3 separate regions of the Homo sapiens genome follow, and regions 1 and 3 are each reported to be linked to region 2. Evidence: microRNA targets listed by miRTarBase, many of them from high-throughput screens and not tested one by one. Region 2 holds a microRNA gene; each other region holds the end of a gene's coding sequence.

Evidence for each region. Region 2 holds the annotated microRNA hsa-miR-3182 (GCUUCUGUAGUGUAGUC, at 1,346-1,362, opposite strand). A microRNA usually pairs through its seed, bases 2 to 8, with sites in the 3' UTR of a target mRNA and lowers its output. Matches are read on the target gene's strand: a 7mer-m8 pairs with bases 2 to 8, a 7mer-A1 pairs with bases 2 to 7 and ends in A, and an 8mer does both.
Region 1: the mRNA of TRIM10 is a reported target of hsa-miR-3182. Seed matches in the 3' UTR shown: 7mer-m8 at 723-729 and 7mer-A1 at 762-768.
Region 3: the mRNA of ARHGAP21 is a reported target of hsa-miR-3182. Seed matches in the 3' UTR shown: 7mer-A1 at 2,670-2,676.

The regions. Positions count from the first base shown.
Region 1 is chr6:30,151,168-30,154,427 of GRCh38, reverse strand. TRIM10 (tripartite motif containing 10) reads left to right here. Exons shown (of 7, transcript NM_006778.4): 7 at 1-2,485. The coding sequence ends at 459. Among named protein-coding and RNA genes, the nearest start is that of TRIM10, 8.4 kb to the left of the region's middle.
Region 2 is chr16:83,506,451-83,509,710 of GRCh38, reverse strand. MIR3182 (microRNA 3182) reads right to left here and starts at 1,365; the gene lies at 1,303-1,365. All of the region lies in intron 7 of CDH13 (cadherin 13), which reads right to left.
Region 3 is chr10:24,581,575-24,584,834 of GRCh38, forward strand. It overlaps ARHGAP21 (Rho GTPase activating protein 21), which reads right to left. Exons shown (of 26, transcript NM_020824.4): 26 at 2,040-3,260. The coding sequence ends at 2,838. Among named protein-coding and RNA genes, the nearest start is that of ARHGAP21, 140 kb to the right of the region's middle.

The DNA.
Region 1 (3,260 bases), not on the chromosome of region 2:
CAGCGAGCTCAGTTCTCCTACAAATGGCAGAACTCACCAGACAACCCCCAACGTTTTGACCGGGCCACCTGTGTTCTGGCCCACACTGGCATCACAGGGGGGAGACACACGTGGGTGGTGAGTATAGACCTGGCCCATGGGGGCAGCTGCACCGTGGGCGTGGTGAGCGAGGATGTGCAGCGGAAGGGGGAGCTTCGGCTGCGGCCAGAGGAGGGGGTGTGGGCTGTGAGGCTGGCTTGGGGCTTCGTCTCGGCTCTGGGCTCCTTCCCCACACGGCTGACCCTGAAGGAGCAGCCCCGGCAGGTGAGGGTGTCTCTTGACTATGAGGTGGGCTGGGTGACCTTCACCAACGCTGTCACCCGAGAGCCCATCTACACCTTCACTGCCTCCTTCACTAGGAAGGTCATTCCCTTCTTTGGGCTCTGGGGCCGAGGGTCCAGTTTCTCCCTGAGCTCCTGAGAAGGAGCAGTTACCTACTCTCCTCTAAGTACAGGACTCATATCAACCCAAGTACCATGTGGACTTGATCCCTGGCTGAATCACCTGGATGACTTGGAATAGAAATGACTGCTTTAGAAGATGGGATGGGGCCGGGTGGTAAGGGATAGAAGAGAGGACTCTCAATCTACTGATCAAGTCCTTTCCCCAATGCCCAGTGGATGGCCAGGGTACCTGGGGACTCAGGCTGCTGCCAGTTCTGCTCACCACCATCCGTGCTTGGCACAGAAGTAGCTGCATAGAAAGGGCACTGGATTTGAAGTCAGAAGACCTGGGTTCTTGAACCAGCCTGTCAACCAGTTGTATGACTTTAAACAAGGCATCTCACCTCTTTTCATCTTGTTTTCTTCCAATAATGTTAGAGTTCATGTAATCACATTCTCTAGAACCATTTAGTTTGTGTTAACTATGAACCAAGCAGTGTGGTGGCCACTGGTGACTTGAAAATATAGAGAAAAAAAAAACCTGCTCTATATCTGAAAGAGCTCTTGGGAAGACAGAGAAACATAAAGAGGAAATTACAGCACAGTGTGGTGGGTGTTACGGGAAGTCCAACCCCAGCATTATGGGAGTTCAGGGGAAGGGGCATAGCCCAGCCTGGAAGGAGAGGGTGAGTGGGGGATGGCTTTCTGAAAAGGGTGGTCTAAAGGATGCCTATGGTCAATAGGGAAAAGAGGGGAAGAAGCATCTTAAGAAGAGGAAACAGCAGAGAACTGGCTGGATGACCTGTGACTCTGGAGCACTGGGTTGTCTCCATTGTCATTATGGGCAGATGTGTGCCATCCCCAGCCGACGCCACTCACTGCCTCCTTCCTCCTGGTGTTGCCACTTCTGGGTGAGATTAAGGTGCAGGGCCTGGGGGCAGGAGGACATAAGGTATAGCCATAAATCATAACCCAGGGACCACACTCAACCCTAGGGAAATTGTCTTCCTGATCAGTTGATTACCATCTGAGGTCAAGAAATGAGATAGTGGGAGCAAATGGGTCACAAATAGCTCAGCTGTGGGCTCAGAAACTGCTAGGTAAAAGAATTCCAGAAGGAGGCCAGGGCATAAGTTGGATGACCTATGAACTTTAGTCTAAAGAATTGAGACTACCGTAATTGAGACTACTGTAGTGACATCTGAGAAATGGGATGGAAGAGTGACCATGTTTTATTTTCTTGTTCTTGTCACTATTGTATTTTATTTTGCATAATCATGCCCTTCACTGACAGTCTCCTTAACATCATCTGTTTACTCTGCTCAGTGTAAACTACAATGCTCTGTCATCTCCCTACTGGGTCTCCTGGGAGGAGGGGAGCCATCCAGGGTGCAAACTCAAAGGCAGAGGGCACAGCGTGCTTAGGCCCAAGCTTAGAATTCAATTGAGAAGTTCTGTTGTTCATCCTTACCTCAGCAGGTAGAAAAGAGGTGGAGATCAGAAGCCAGGGATTAGAGATTGAATTGCTTTCCCTGGGAGTGTGCAGTATCTCATTAAAATGTTGTATATTCAAAAAAATACAGACACACACAAGTGCCTATATAATGATAAAACATATCCAAAGCACCCAAACCTGTGATTCCAGAAAAGTAGATCCTATTTTTGTTTATTTTTATTGGCTTTAGCTGTGTCTTTTGAAAGGACTATTATCCTCTAAAATGTATGTGTATGAAGATCCTGGCTTGCAGCTCGGGAGCTTTACACACCTTGTGTCACTTTATCTTGGTAACGAGCCAAGATCATGCAACCAGTTCATCCATGTCTGACCCAAGAGCTCTTAACTGCTATGCTGCACTGCCTCATTCAGAGATAGATGCCTGCATGGGTCCTGGCGATTATTTTAATGCTGGCTACACCCCCACAGGTGACTTGGATTCAGAAATACAATTTATATTTCTTCTTTTTAAATTGTTTTATTTTATTTTTCTTTTAATAGTTATATGTCAGTGAGAACAATTTATATGTCTTACACTGAGAAATAAAACTGCTCATAAGTGAAAACACTCATGTTGGTCTGTCAGTACCTGCTTCTCCCCTAGGGTAATTTTACTTGAAGTTTACTTGCTTTCGGAGTATGGAGTCAGCACAGGGGAAGTGGATAGATCCTAAAACCTGGTAACTTCAAGATAAGGCAGCTTAATGAACCTCCTTGCTCTGCTGGCCGGAAGTGGGACTCTGGGTTCCCTCCCCAGGAAGTGCTCAAGTCTAGAGGCCCCAGAGTCCCAGCTACCCTTTCCGACTCTGAAGGACTGTTGCACATTTGTAACATCCACAGTTTACACCTCATTTTTCAAAGCTTACATGGTAGCAACCCTTTCTATTGCAAAGAACTGAGACCCACTCAAGTTAGTTCAAATGATAGGTAAGTTTATTATAAAAGCAGAAATAAGGAAAATGCGATTTTCCACCATGAGCCAGGCCCCGTGAGAAGCTATGTCAGGCGTGAGCGAGTTGGTGGGGTCACCACTCGTTCCTGTAGGAAGAACTAGAGATTCCAAAAATGCTGATAACAATCACACACATAGAACTTATTTTGGCCAAACACCATAATAAATATTTGTATATATTAACTCATTTAATCCTCACAACAACCTCAGGAGGTAGGTGCCCATCTTGTACATAAGAGAACTGAGACATGTGGAGGCCGAGCAGCTGGTCTCAAATCAGCTGATAGTAAGTCGCAGAGCCAGCATTTGAAGTCTTGTGGTTTGGCTCCCGAGTCTGTGCTCATGACCATTATGCAGTGGTATGTTGTATGCCCAGGACCTACCGGTAAGA
Region 2 (3,260 bases):
GGACTTTTTGGTAAATCAAATTTGTCTTATTCCCTCTGGTTTCCCACTCTTTGCCTTTATATGTTTTCTTCTCTCTGCTAGAAATAGTCTTCCTTTCTCCCTTTCCAGAAATCTACTTCCCACTCTTTAAATCAGAGGTCAGCAAACCACAGCTAATGGGACAAATCTGGCCCACCATCTGCTTTTGTAAATAAAGTTTTATTGGAACACAGCCATGCTCATTCATTTATGTGGTATCTATGCTTGCTTTTGTGCTACAAAAAAGTAAAGCTGCACAGTTGCAGCAGCCACCATATGGCCCACAAAGCCTAAAATACTTACTATCTGGCCCTTTACAGAGAGTAAAATCTGCAGATCAGTGCTCAAAAATCTTTTGCTCAAGTTATCCCATACCTGGGCATCTTCCTGATCCCCTTGAGACAAAGTTACTTCCCTGGCCATGGCATGTTCCACATATCATCCTGCTGTAAAGAGTCATTTCCATGGCCGCCTCCCTGCTATACTTTGTGAATACCATCAAGGTGGGCATCAGCTCTTACATCTTTGAAACTCTGAGGTAAGAAAGGGTGACCCTAAGTATGGGAAGCCCCTGGGGGCTGGGGAAGAAGGGGGTTGAGTAGAGGGATTATGGAAACTTGGCTTCAAATAGAGGAATGAGAAGGGAGGGCAGAGGGTTTCTGTGATGTGTGCATGCTATGCAGACCCCACAGGCACTCATGCACACAGAGCTGTGATGGCATGTACACACCTATGCATAAATTCTCAACTCCAGGTACCCATTAGCAGCATGAGAAAGTACAAACAGATCAGCTGGGTCATTACACCTCAGCTCTACACGGTACCTTGTGCCTGTTACAAGATATCTAAAATATAGAAGACAAGAGAGAATAATGGATCCAGCTAGCTCTCTGCCTATTTGAGTGCAAATAGCTTATTCAGGATACAATCTTAAGAAGCACAAGTGAGGGAGAAAGAGAAGTGAGACAGAATATGTAAAAGAGTCAATACACAGGTGGCAATGGGCAGATTATCTCTGTGGACAACTGGTGTTCAAACTCACTGGGGTCATCTGGGAGACTCGGGAGAACATATCTCGAAGTTGTCCTATTCCAAGGGTCAAGAAGGGATGGTAATCTACCAACTCTTGCCACTCAAAGGCTGATGGCTGTTCCCTGGGCAGTAAGACTGAGCACACTCCCATGGTCAGAGGAAAGTCCAGGCAGGCAGCTGCAGGGATTAACAGGTTGAAAGCCTGTATGGGAGTGGTGGGTTCCTGGGGATCTGGGTGAGCCATCAACAGTCACTGCTCTATGATCCAACCCAAGCATCGAAGGGCGGATGCACGGACTACACTACAGAAGCAGCCATGGGGCAACGCAAAACTTCTCTCTAATTTTTTACCCCATCTTCTCACTGCTATCCTCCAGAACCCCAGTAAGTGAGTTATTGAACCGGGGACAGGAGAAGTAAACTGCCGACCTGATTTGGCAGACTCCACATTTATTAAATGTATTCCCTTCCCTTCCCTTTCCTCCCCTCTCCTCCCCTCCCCTCGCCTCCCCTCCCCTCCCCTTCCCTTTCCTTCCTCCCTTCCTTCCTTTTCCTTCCTTCTTTCCTTCCTTCCTTCCTTCCTTCCTTCCTTCCTTCCTTCCTTCTTCTCTTTCTCTCTTTCTTTCTTTCGACCGAATGTTGCTCTTGTTGCCCAAGCTGGAGTGCAGTGGCGCGATCTCGGCTCACTGCACCCTCTGCCTCCCGGTTTCAAGCGACTCTCCTGCTTCAGCCTCCTGAGTAGCTGGAATTACAGGCGCCCGCCACCACGGACTGCTAATTTTTGTATCTTTAGTAGAGACGGGTTTTACTATGTTGGCCAGGCTGGCATCGAACTCCTGAGCCCATGATCTGCCTGCCTCGGCCTTCCAGAGTGCTGGGATTACAAGCATGAGCCACCGCACCTGCCCTCATAAATTTTTTACTAAGCAAAACATTTTTAAACTAAGTGATAAGACAATTTTTATTTAAAACCAAGGATGTCTGAGCATGTGCCATTAGATGAGATCAGGCAATTCAGGGTGCTATGCCCACAGGAAGGCTAGCATTAGATATTAACAGTCTAGCTCAGTTAAGCATTCCAGTCACCTTTGGAAACGTTTCCTGGGCTCTTTAATTTGTTTCCAGAGTAGCAACCAATTATCATTATTGTACTGTTAAGAATGGGACAAAGACTGTGTACCATTAATACTGCTTCTAAACTACTTTAAAGAACTTAGTCTTTCTAGCCAAATATGCTTTGAAAATGTCACTGGCTTTAAATGTATTTGGTTTAAATTTCCCCAGGTTCTAACACACACTCTTCATTCATTCAGCCATCTTCTGAGCCTCTATTAATAACAATACCTCTTTGAAGAATGCATACATTACAAACTTTCTCAAGAAGCCTAGAATCGACAGAGGAGAGAGACTGTAATAAAAATATTGCTTTTCCTTGTGACAGTGGCATTAATAGAATGCTAAACAATCTGTGTGAGAAAATGAAGAAAGAGGGATTGAGTCATGCAAAGAAGACCAGAAAAAGTCCACAGAGGAGGGGCTGCTCACACCAGGTTTGGGGGGTAACAGAGAAATGAGCAGCAATTTTAGCTGGTGAAACAGACTATGTGTATTAGTTATCTAATGCTGAATAAAATTACCCCAAACTTAGTGCTTTAAAGCAACTAAAAACATTTATGATTGCACACAGTGTTTGTGGCTTGGAGATATGGAAGCTGCTCAGCTGTGTAGTTCAGTCAGGATGTTGGTGAGGCTACAGTTATCTAAAAGCTTGATGGGGGCTAGAAGGTCTACTTCCAAGGTGGCTCACACATACGGCTAAAGAATTGATGCTGGCTATTAGTAGGTGGCCTCAGTTCCTTGCCATGTGGATTTCTCCATGAAGCTACTTGAGCTTCCCTACAACACGGCATTTGGCTTTGCCTGTAGCAAGAAAGGACAAGAATAAACAAGGCTCAGAATTCACACAAAGTCATTTCTGCCATGTCCTATTTGGCTACACAAGTCATTCCTATTCGATGTGGGAGGGGACCACGCAGGAGCATGGGTACCATGAGGTGAGAATCACTGGGAGCCCTCCTGGGGGCTGGCTACCATAATATGCAAAAGTCAGAAGTGCATTATCTTTGAGGGAAGAGAAAATGCTGATGCCATTGGAACGAGGGTGAGTTAGGAACGTAGTGGTACAATATAAAGCCAGAAAGCATGGGTCA
Region 3 (3,260 bases), not on the chromosome of region 2:
AATACAAAAGGATTAATACGGATGGAAATGATGTATTATGCAAATACTAACCAAAAGTAACTAATATAGCTACATTAATATATAAAATAAGGTAATAAAGCTTTGGTTGAGACTCATTATGAAGGACATTTCATAATAGAAGGGTCAATCTACCACAAAGACGTAACAATTCTAAATTTATGTTCACTTAGTAAACTAACTTCAAAATAAAAGATTGACATAAAAGATATGCAAATCTACATTCATATCATAATATTCTATCACTTCTCAGGAACTGGTAAGAGCCAGGGAAGAAATCTATAATGATCTAGATCTGTAAAACATGATTAAATTTGACCTAATACACCAAATAAAAAGCATCCAGTAAGGATAGAAACATATTCTTTTCAAGTAGACGTGTTATTTCTCAAAATTGACCATATAGTGGGGTCAAAATGGATGTCTCAATTTCAAATGTATGTTTAATGATAATGTAACATTATGCTGGAGTCAACATAACCAGAAAGTTTTCAAATGTTTGGAAATTAAGCAATACATTGCTAAATAACTCACAGGTTAAAGAAAAAAATCAGAATGCAAACTAGAAAGCATTTTGAAATGAATGATAATAAAAATACAGCATATAGCCTTAAAATGAAGATATTAGAAAACAACTAAAAATCAATTTTCCAAGCAATCGTCTCAAGAAATTAAAAAGTCGAGCAAATTATAGCCAAAGAAAGGTTGGGCGTGGTGACTCATGCCGGTAATCCCAGTACTTTGGGAGGCCAAGGCGGGCGGATCGCTTTGAGCCTCGGAGTTTGAGATGAGCCTGGGCAACATGGAGAAAGCCCATCTCTACAAAAAATACAAAAAAAAAAAAGTTAGCTGGGCATGGTGGCATGTGCCTGTCAGTCGCAGCTCTGCAGTGAACTGTGATGATCGTACCACTGTACTCCAGCCTGGGCAATAGACTGATAGTGAGACTCTCTCTCAAAAGAAAAAAAAATATAGAAAAAATGAGGAGCAAGAACAAATAATATAAAACTATTTGAGCCTTGAAAGTAACTTTTAAAACATATAAGTAAAAAGTGTTTTTGACACTTTTAATAATACACTGCAAGAACTCCCCCTCATGTAAACTAAGGGAAGTGTGTGCTTTGTTTTGTTCAAAACTTTAAAAGCAGAGCATGACTCCTAGTAAAATCTCATCGCCAGCAGCAAACTATTCATGGTACCATCTCCATGTGTAGTTACCATTGTTAGTGACTCTATATACTGGAGCAAACATCTGACTATTCCATTATATTATTTTCATGATGTAGTTGTACCTGAGCATTTGCATATTGAAAAATTTATTTTATTATAAATCACTTTCATTTTTCTTTTATAATAGGGGATTATGGTCTATATCATAACATACTCAATGTAAAGTTATATTTAGATATATTATGAATTTCATGATGGTAAAGGGGAAATCTCAAAATACTTTTAAGAAAGTATCATGTTTGACAGTTGACAATCTCTGGATTTGATGACTGTTAAGGTCCTTCTCAGCCTTAACAGTCTGAGATTTTTTTGTAACCATTACTTCCAACAATAGCTTTGTTCTATTTTGAAACTAGTGTGTGGCAGGCACTGTAAGTGGAACAGTATCTCATTTAAATCTAATCACCCTTATAATAGGTAGTGTTACTGTAACTAACTGTTTATATGAGAAAACAAATTCAGAGAAGTTAAATAATGTGTTCAAGTTCACATACCTAGGTAGAGCTGGACTGACTCCAAACTCATGTTCGTTTCACTCACGAAAAGAACATTAACATAACATACATTACTTTACCTAGAAGAGTTAAACACTATCAGTCAACAAGTGAGGTTAGGCTAATGTAAGCATCTGTAAGAAAGAGTCTCTACCCACCACAGCAAGAAAGAGGAGAAGATGGAATGTATAAATATAGTAGGCACCTTTTTAAAGTCAGGACCAATTAATCATGTAAGGTAGTTATAAATGGATGACATCTAAAAATATATCAGAATAAGTTTCAAGCCATGCAAAATTCACCAAAACAATTTTTATTTCCAGTGTTTAATTGGGTATGCACACAGGCATGACACAGGTTTGGATTCATTAAGTCCTCATGCAGAATTATATTCTTCTCGATAAAGAAGCCAGTTCCATCCAGGATCCACTATCTACACACCTATGTTACAACATTATATCAAATCTGGTATCTGAAGAAAAGATACACATTTAATATGTTCATTTAAGTTACGTATTTTACAGAAAGATTAAAAATTCAAGTCACACAAAACTCAAAAACTGTATTAAAAGTTTGAATATAAAACTCAGATCCACCTGGAATGACTAAAGAATGGAAGTTCTGTATCCACCTGTGTTAAAACTGGTAAATGTAATGATATCTGTTACCAATAAAACGCATTCGTTTATTCAATGTAAGTAAGTTATCTAATTTTAACAATATGGCACCCTAAAAACCAACTGTATTTTTATGATGAGGCACTTTTGTTAGTGATGAAACCAAAAGAACAAATTTGCTGCACACTGATGCCAGCGATTTTCTTCAGTGATTTTGGGTATATGCTATGTAGTAAGTTGCAACAAATACCTTGCTCATTTGTATACAACTATCCGATATATTTTTAAATATATATATATATATATATGTTCTTCTGGCTGTAGTAATGCACTGTAAAGCTATTTCACAGTGCAAAATGATGAAACCAGCCCAAATGAAGGCTGCATAATAACAATTCTGATACAAGAAAATATTGACAGAGTTACTGGAACGTGTAACAGTAGTTTTTTTACTTGCTAGAGTGGACATACCCCCAGTTTAAAGACAGGGATGAAACTCTGCTTTACTGCCTGGGGTTTCAGACAGTTTATGAGGTTGGGCATTCGCTGCAGAACTAGCATTTTTGCTCACGTTCTGGAAGCTTTCTCCGTTTATTTGGTCAGGTGACTGTGGTGGTATGGAAAGAAGGGGCCTGTTTGTTGAAGCCAAGGTGCTGGAAGAACTGCCTGTGTTGCAATGAAGAGACAAAGGTGTGTCGGTCGTGGCTATTTCTCGTGTGCTTGGGTTCTCTGTCTGGGGATCTCCGATTTCTCCTCTGCTAAGGTCAGAGGTACTGGTGCGTAGGCGTTCCCTGGCCAGCCAGTCTGAGATGGAAAGGTCCTGGGCTGAGCATTTTGGTTTTAACCGGTTTACAGCTGAAAGTTCAGATTCTCTCTCCCCGCTCTGCTCATGCACTTTCCA